Homo sapiens: one gene and its partner. The protein of the gene in region 1 purifies or fractionates together with the protein of each later gene. This does not show direct contact. Each region holds a gene or a part of one and is shown on either strand. Other genes may lie near its edges.

Region 1 (5,188 bases):
ATCCTTGTTAAAGTATTTAATTACATCCCTGGATGTAATTCACCTGGATAGACTCAATAAGATTTTGTTATAGGAAACCTTTCAGAAAAAAAATCTCCTGTGCAGAGCTTAAGACATTGCACACAAACACACCTGCACATACAGACACATACGTGCACAAACACCACATACACACACACTGCATCATCAAGCAATGCTTTCTTTTCATCAGACAGATGAAATGCAGACTATGAATCCTGTTGTCTAACAAGGTACAAAAAACTGTATACTTTTCCAAGACACACCCTGCCCATATGAAACAAGAAAGGAACACTATACAGTGTCCATAAATTTTTCTATGACAATTTACTTTTGTGGTTGAGCCATATCCAGGGCTCTTTGCCAAAGGGCACTCTTTATGATCTGAATTCTTCTTTGATAATTATATTTATTTTCTATTTATAAATATATACATTAATACATAACCTTCCACATCTATAAATCCTATCATATGTATATTCCTTAAAGGCATATAAATGCATATATTTTATACACCACTGAAGATATACAAATAACCAAAATATGTAAAACTATATATGGCTCAATGTTTCATATTTTATAGATCTCTCTATCATATACCATTATAGGTGGTATAGAATCATATATAATTTCTACATCTCTAAATCCCTTTGGGTGACCCTTTGAGCCACAACAAACTCAGCATGGGTTCAGAAAGTGGCAGGCCACACACTTGGCTAGAGGGTGAGGCTGCAGGCAATACCTGAGTGATGGCTGGTGCTGTAATTGATGGAGGGTAAACAGGGGAGAGACACTTTGACAAGTCTATCCTCTTAGCGTCCTACAACTTGCATCTCCTCGCCTGGTCTTGCCAAGAGCTGAAAGTCATGTTTCATTTGAAAGGCCTACAACTGTAGTCTCCCTGATTTTTAGAAAGCGCTTGGTTGCATTTTCCCATGAGTTGGTTGAACAGTCACTCTTTCACCAAACATCTGCCAATATGAGAGAGAATGTGACTGTGTTACAAAGTCTACTGAACTTTGTAAGAAGCCAGAACAATAGATAAAAATGTATACTCCATCCCTAACAAAATAATATACTTAGATCAGACACCAGGTGTTTCACCTGGATTTAGCAACTATGCATTTGCCAAGAATCTTACTCTTGTATTTGTCACGACTTTTTCAATTGCAAGTGACCAAATCCTAATTTAAGCTGGCTAGACCAACAATATTAATAATATTTTGGAACTATATGCTCCGCCAAAATAAGAGGTATAAATACCAGGGGAGGGAATAATTTGCAGATGATATTGCATACTTAATACACCTTACATACTAATACGAGAGTTTAGTAATATGACTACATACAAGATAAATGTGTAAAACTCAAAGCAGTACATTAATTATGCATAGTGAATTCAAAAGAGAAATGGGAAAATTGCCTTGCACATAATGGTTTCAAAAATAATGAAATGCAGAGGAATAAAGGTTAATAAGAAAGATGAAATACTTTTATAAAGTGCAAAATTTTATTTATGGAAATAAAACAGAATCCGAATAAATAATGAGGGATTCATATTCTTGAGTAGGAAGATGTAATAGCAAAAGAAGGCCAATCTCACTCATTTAGTGAAAACCAAGCAACCATACTCATAGGATGATACCCTACTGAGATAAAAGCAAAAATATGAAAATATATATAATGTAAAGAAAGTATACAAGAATTCTTATTATTGCTCATAAACCCCAAAAGTGGAAAACACTTAAATCTCTATCAATCTTAATTGGTTGGAAAACTACATTGCATCCAAAGTAAAGACTACCATGCAATTATTAAAAGAACATGTCAAATCTGTATGCATTGACCTGTAAAGATATCTTTAACTTATTGACAAGAGAAAAATCTAACATAAAAAAACATAGCCAGCATGATAGTAGATTTTATATTGATAAAATAGAAGTGACAATTTACCCTAAATATATGCATATACATAGTATAATTTCAAAAAAATTGAAAACAATTCACACAAAACTGCTAAGAATATTTTCCTCTGGGGGTAGTGTAGAATTAGCAAAAAAAGGGAAGTTTCATTTCTTACTGTGGTTTTTTTGTATTTTTCCAAAAATAGCATTTAGATTGCAGCCTAGATATGATCTACAATTATATCAATTGTATACACTTACATATCAACAAGAGCTGCTTTATACAATTTGCTACCCAACAATTAAGTGAATTGGTACAAAAGAATTCCTTAAACCAGAAAGAAATTCCAAATGGGACAAATGTAAATGATAAATTATGATTCTGTAAGAAATCTTTTAATTTCCAAAGCCAGATTATTCTTAATGTGCTAAAGGGGAGATAACTTACCATAGGCACTGGCTTTCCCTGATGACAGTTGATACCACCAATGAAGATCATATTGGGCATCACGGGTTTGGGATACTCCAAAACAAAGTCAGTTCGCAACAACCAAATTGATGTGTGGCTGTAGAGATCATATGCCGTGACAGGGGTTTGGAGAATTTCAGAGGCTATTTCTAAGACATTTTTGAAAAAATAGGGGCAAAATAAATGTTCCTCCAAGTGCATGATGTGGTTCCATACTCTCTCCTTGAAAGTCATGGCGTCTGAGAACCCTAAGAGAAGTCTGGGGACATAGGAAAGAGGAGCAGGGCACTGTGCACCTTCTTCAAGATAGTGGCAAAATATTCCCCTGGCGAAGACCACAGAGGGGAGGGAGAAATATTTGGCAACAATTAAGCCACAGGCATCAAAAGGATCGAGAAACACTGCATCAAAACAACTCTCCTTTAAGTATTCTACTAATTTTCGGTCATTAAACAAACTCCTGCAATTTGAAAAAAATAAGTCAAAAATACCATTGGATGAACTTGTTAATAGAGAAAATGCACTTCGCAATGGTGCCGTCCAGCGAGCATCGGCAAAAACCATGAACTCCCGGTCCTGATCCTCCAGAGTGTATGAGGTTGAGTAAGTCTTCACTGTGCAATTCAGTGATCTTCCCAGTTGCCAACTCACCTCTGGCATGACTACGACCACCTCATGCCCCCTGAGGATGAGTTTCTCCACCACCGACTGCATGGTGAACCAGTGGCTCCCATCCATGGGCACTACCAGCAGCTTCCCTGCCTTGGCAAAGCCACAGGTCAGCAGTAGACACACATATAGGGGAAGGAGGCCAGTCCACCCTGCACGAGCCATCAGAGAACTTCAGCCCAGAGCCAGCAGCTGGGATTCTAAGCTCCTATAATATAGTAAGTGGAAGAAGTACAGATAGAACCTGCCCTCAAAAGAAGGCGTGTACTTATTCATTCATTTAAAAAAAAATTCACATTCACTGCCAATGATTTACTCATAATAATACATGAGTAGCCTTTGCTGAGATACCTGCTTATATGTTTTCAAGAAAAGAGTAACTCATCATCTTTGCCTTGGGGACAGATCATGCCCTGTGCTGCAATATGAGTTTAGAAACAAAATTATTAAGCAATGCTTTTGGCCTTGACGACATTGAAAGATAAAAAGGAAAGTAAATTTGAACGAAGCTAATAATTTTGGAATTTGTCACAAAGAAAAATTTGCAATTTTTTTTTTTTTTTTTTTTTTTTGAGATGGAGTCTCACTGTGTCATCCAGGCTGGAGTGCAGTGGTAAGATCTAGGCTCACTGCAACCTCCACTTCCTGGGTTCAAACGATTCTCCTGCCTCAGCCTCAGTAGCTGGGATTACAGGCGCACGCTGCCATGCCCAGCTAACTTTTTGTATTTTAGTGGAGACGGGGTTTCACCATGTTGCCCAGGCTGGTCTCGAACTCCTGAGCTCAGGCAATCTGCCCATCTCGGCCTCCCAAAATGCTGGGATTACAGGCGTGAGCCACTACACCTGGCCAAAGTTTATAGACAATTTTTATTTTGTCCTCTGCCCAGAAAGAAATTGGCATCTCATGTTCGACGGAAAGAGAGCAAGGGTCTTAGCGTTGACCTCCTAACTGGGAGGAAATTGCGGCTCACCTGTGTCTCTGCAATACACAGCTCACTTGCGCATTGCAGAGACACAGGTGAGCCACAATTGTGACACAGGTGAGCCACAAGTGCTGCTTGTCTTTTTTCATTTCCAAATCTTCTGAGGCCTCTGAAATGCTGTAATGAGATTGACAACCCTGCCTCCATGGACCCTTCCAGAAATTTGATGGAATGTGACTGTCACCTATTTTAAATGGCTTTCCTCAGATACATTGTCTGCAGTGGTGAGTCGCCGTCCCTATGCTTGCCCAAGCACTCTAATGAGCTGTCTCTCTCTGCCCACTCTGCTTCTGCATTCTGAACAGAGCTGCAGGCCTTTGCTATGGGCCCACCCCAATCACTTTGGTGCTCATCTTCAGGAATCTATGTATTGTTTCCTCCATTCTACCGAGCACCCCTTGAGGATGAGATTACATCTTCTACCTGTTTTCATCCTCCTTCCACAGCACCCATGCTTTGCCTTGCACAGAGGAAGTCCATGGGAATTCTCATTGCATTGGGCTGAATTCCATCATGCAGATTTTAATGGGTGAGCTCAGCAGTGTGTGTTAGGCAACACACTGAGGAGCATTTCGTGAGGGATTCAACAGCCAACCTCAGGGCATAATTCTTGTAGAAGCACAAGATGGTTCCTTCCAGGACACCCTAACTGGTACTAGACATTTGCTTAGTCACTTTCCTCTAGTACATACTACACTACTATAATAATTTTGTTGCTACCTCCTGTTGCTATTGCAGGGAGCTAAAGTGTGGCCTAAATGCATGTGATATGACGTTTATACCCTCTGCGCGTTTCTTCTCTCTAGTAAATTGCATGTCAGAGTAAAAAATGATCTCTTATGGTTCTACTGTATTTTTCATCATGTTTAGTGTAATTTTTTAAACCTTGAATACCACCATGGGACTATAAAGTGCAACTAATGATGCTGCAAGTACTCCCAAGAAGCAAAGAAAAATCATGACATTACCAAAAAAACTTGAATTACTTGATAGGTACCGTAGATTGAGCTCTGCCGCTATGATTGCCTGCCATTTCAAAATCAATGAAGATAGATAAGGACCATTGCAAAAGAAAGAAAGAGAAAAAGAAAAAAGAGAGAGAGAGAAAGAAAGAAAAGAGAAGAAAAGATTCATGAAGACATT
Region 2 (4,564 bases), on another chromosome or scaffold:
AATAGGCAAGGCCCATAAAATCAATTACCTCCCAGAAGCTCCAGAGGAGAGGCATGATTTGGCCACATACCCTTGGAAGACAGGACTGGCCATGATTCACATAAAAAAAAAAAAGTGACCTGCATTGCTAAGTTAGCCACCTTGTTCAGGAGAAAGAGTTTGATACATCTCCTCCTTTTCCTTTCTATAGGAAGAATTTGGGGTCTGGAATAAAGAAAACAGCAGGGCAGGGCAGTGTGTGAGACGGACCTCAGAGAAGAAATGAACTTACCTCTTAGGAGCATGATGCTGGCTGCCCACATGAAGGCTTTCCCCTCTCCCAACTTTCCCAGCTAAAATTTCAGGTATGAGAGATGCAGCGTTGCCTGTATTCTTGCTCGGTGATTCATTTATATTAAGGAAAAAATCATGAATGAGAACCATGCCTTTAGATAATATCAAGCAGGCATTCTTGTGTTCATGGAGTGCGAATAGGAAGAGAATGAAAGGCAACTGGCTCAAAGGCACGGTTCGCACTGATACGTGCATCGCAGACCTCAAAATAATACTCTGAGTGAAAGAAGCCAGACCAAAAAGGAAAACATGCTTTAAGATTACAATTCTATAAAACACTAGAAAATGCAAACCAATATATCGTGTCGGAAAGCAACAGATCAGTGGTTGCTTGGGGCTGGGGAGCAGGGAGGAGTAGGAGGGAGGGATGACAGAGAGGTACATGGAAACTTTGGGGGCTGGTGGCTGTTTTCACAATCTTAACTGTGGTGATAGATTCACAGCTGGATTTAGATATGTGTCAAAGCTTATCAAATTGTACATATTAATTAAACTCCAATAAAGGTAATTTTTAAGAAAGACCACTGTTTACGCTTAAAAAAAATAAAAATAAAAATTCTAAGACTGAAATCCTCCCCAAAAGTCAACCTGGTCATCCTAGTCTTTTGATATGATGTAACCCACCAGCTATGACTGACCGTGAACCAGCCCAAGGAAAAGTTGATGAAAAAAAAGAAAAGCTATAGCCAAACATCCCCCAGCCCATGCCAGCCACTGTCCAAATACCTGCCTTCTGCTACAGGAAAGGGGCTGCTCCTGACAGCTCGGCTCCACAAAGAGTGAACTTGGTGGCCAGTTTCCACGTGACCTATATTCCACTGGCCACCTCAACACTGCCCAGTAACAGCTGGGAGAGGCCCCACCTCCCACTCAGTTAATGACCCAGTCAGAGCTGGGGCAAGACAGGAAGAGGGAAAGACAAAGAGGATGTTCTCCTCCTGCCTCCAGAGATATTACAGCAACTCATACTCACTGGTGTCCAGCCCAAGTCAGACAGGAGGAACTGGCAGAATGTACCCATGAGGGTGAAAAAATCAAAAAGATGCCAAAAAGACACGTATTCCACAGGATCTGAAGACACGGCCCTGAACTTGGTTCAGAGCTCCTTGAGCTTCTGTTCTACCTGCTAGAAGGATGGAGAGGCAAGAAAAACATCCTTCCCAGGCAGGCCAAACTGTTTTCACAGAATTTGGTTGCAGCTCTTTATTCTCTGTTGCCATTCCACCTGCTCCAATGGCCCAAGACTGACTCCTAGTGCGGTCACCCCACCTAGGTGGGGACACAGTTACCTCACCTCAAAGAAGCTCAGGCGTCTTCCCAGCTAGGTCAGCTCCCTGCCACCTCACCTCTGTCCCACCAAACAATAACAAACCCTCAGCCTCCTTCGCATACCTTTTCCTGGGGACTTTTTGGGTGTACCACTCAGCCCATCTCAAGCCCACAGTGCTGCCCCAAATAGTGACCTGCCTGGGTCCCCTGCACGGACTCCTGTATCCCTGACCAACAACAGGCCTGCAGCCGCTAGCCTTTCTCTTGGCAGCTTGCACGCCTTGCTACCCTGCTGTATGCAGGAGGATCTGCTGCCGCTGCTCTGAGTAATTCTTCTGGGGTTTGCGTAAGCCTTGCACAGGGAGGAAAGCTGAGCATCCCACAGGAGCCAGGGCCAATCTTCAGAGAGGAATGGCTTAGAGATCTTAGGCAGGACAGAAAACATCTTGGGAACAACCGGAGAAGTTAAATGCCTGAAGTTTTCTGGGCCCCAGAATGAGAAGAAAATCCGTCCTTCTCCCAAACAATATCATGACGTCCCCACTATCTCAGAAACAAGAATCCAGTCTTGACAAGGTGTAAACATAGAGTTTGTCAGTGTGTTCTTCTGGCCACAAAGGACTTCCAGATATTTATCTCCATCAAAAACTTCCCTGTCTCCCAGGGGAAGTGCAGAGAAACTAAGAACTTAGTTTCTCTAAGTAAAAAAGAAGCAAATGACAAAGCCGAGCGGCGTAGGGCCTGCCACCACTTCCAACCGTTCAGTTCATTCGATACTGCCGGTCGGCTTCCCACTGGAGGTTTTGAATATGGAAAGTGCTGACCTGAAAGATAGGGTCAGGGCTGTAGAATCCTTAAAATAAGCACAGTTTAGAAAAATGCTGGGCTAGGGCACCCAGAAAACTTTTTCACAGGCTGTGGGTAAATCACAGTATCACTGAAGCCACTCCTTTGCCATAAACAACATTTGGAAAAGGGGGAGAGGAAAGGGTGAGCTGGTAACAGGTGAATGGTGGGAAAGTGGAGAGAGACGACCTATCAGTCCTACTGTGCAAATAAATCATGGCCCGGGATCTTGGAGGCCCACGGACACTGTTCTTACGACCCTGCCAGGCCAGCTGGCTAGACCATACCTGCCAGGCTGAAGCGCCGGCCTCTGCGGAATAAGGCGCCTCCCAGAGGCTTGGGAGGAAAAGGGGGGCCTGGGGGAAGGGCAGAGGGAGCTCTCCGCGGAGCAGTGGGGACGGGGCCGCGATGGGGTGCGTCTGAGAGGGCTCTGACGGCTGGAGGGCTGCGGGCGTCCACGGGGGGCAGAGCCCGGCGTCACAGGCGCGGCGGGGTGGGCGGCTCGGGGCACAGACGCCGGCTCCCGAGGGCACGCCGGGTGTCGCCCAGAGGCCTGGATCGCGCGGCAGGAGTAGAGTGCCTGCAGCCGCAGGGGAACTCGGGGGTATTGGGGAGCTCCCAGAAAGAAGCAGCTGGGGCTGCTCCCCCCGGGAACTCGGGATTCGCGGGTCGCGGGAGGAGAGAACCCGAGGTGCGGAGGGCTGGGGAATGTGGGGTCCGGCAGGTGCTGCGCGAAGCTCTCTCTCACCTGCGGAGCACCAGGAAGCCCAAGACGACCAGCAGCAGGAGTCCCAGCGTGCGGGCCGGCCTCCGCCGGAGGCTCCACGTGGTCATCGCGTGTTCTCTAAGCGCGGGGACCCGGGTTCCCACTCCAGTCCGCACTCAGCCGCGCGCGGGAGCCTCGCCGCGGGGGGCGGAGCCGCGCACTGGTCGCCTGGGCAACCGGCCCGCCGGCGCTCATTGGCTGGGGCTCGCGGCTCCGCGCCTGCAGCCCTAGGCCTCGCGCAAGCGGGGGCGGGGCTGGCCGGGGCCGGGGCGGGGCCTCTGTCGGGGGGGGGGCGGGGCGGGGCTGGTGGGCGGGGACGAGGTCTCGGTAGGAGAGGGGGCTGGCGGGGGCGGGGCTGGCGGGGCGGGGCCCCGGCCGGGGGCGGGGCGGGGACAAGGTCTCGGTAGGGGACGGGTCTGGCCGGGGCGGGTCCCCAGTGTCGTGGAGCGGTGCAGAGTCCGCCGTCTTTCTGCTCGCGAGGCGCAGGCGGGTGCGGGAATGCTGCGTACCTGTCAAACGCCGAGGTAAAGTCGCCCCTCGCAGCGCTACATCAGGAAGAACGTACAAAAGGCGTCCGCAAAGCAGGGGCAACCAACAGAATCTTTTAAAACAATTCAGATTCTGAAGCAAACAACTTTTTCAATAACAAATCATCCTGTGAAAAGCCAGGATTTTGAAGAATTGTATCTGGACACATTTCAGTGTGGTTCATGTCTGAGGAGGGGGGGTTCCAAATATTTTCTGTCTTTGGTTTCTGCGAGTCTTACTCTGGCCTTGACTCCAAGGGCTTCCAATTTTTTATTTTAAAAAGGTCCATATAAAACTCTCACATTTTAGGAAAGGAAGAATATCATTCTTATTCTGAAACAGAATGTATGTCCCAAAGAACATGATGTAGTATTTCGGTGCAACTTACACTGTAGCAATCACAAACCCAACTCCTCCCGGGAACAAAATTCAGATTTTACTGAAAGAAACTCGAGGAAGGGCAACGTTTTCCAGAGCATCCGGGTTTGTCGAATGTCTCCCTTGCCGCATGCTTTGAATTCATTTCCTAAACGGGGGCATAGTTTTGAACTTGTAAAGCCGACAGGAACCAAATGAAATTGCAGATCTTGGAACAAAGACACAGACTTGGGTATGAAGTGTCCTTTGTCTAGCGTTAAGCACATATTTAGTCAAGGAGCAAAAGTTAAATCAAAGAGAGGCAAAAACAAACGAACAAACAAGAGGAAAAAAACCCTGGCAGAACTGGGGAGGATAAGCTGGGCTTGGAGCAATCCGGGTCTGACTTAAGCACCGCAAACATTCCCAGAGGCGCGCAGAGGGAGGCCCACTCCCGTGGACGCG

The links.
Region 2: the proteins of UGT1A7 (region 1) and GLB1L2 purify together in Homo sapiens (affinity purification with mass spectrometry; one large-scale study listed by BioGRID and IntAct). This does not show direct contact.

Annotation. Positions count from the first base shown.
Region 1 is NC_000002.12:233,679,975-233,685,162, reverse strand, and holds the start of UGT1A7 (UDP-glucuronosyltransferase 1A7 precursor), read right to left. Parts: upstream 3,263-5,188; 5' UTR 3,226-3,262; coding exon 2,371-3,225; intron 1-2,370.
Region 2 is NC_000011.10:134,330,780-134,335,343, reverse strand, and holds the start of GLB1L2 (beta-galactosidase-1-like protein 2 isoform b precursor), read right to left. Parts: upstream 3,357-4,564; 5' UTR 3,283-3,356; coding exon 3,197-3,282; intron 1-3,196.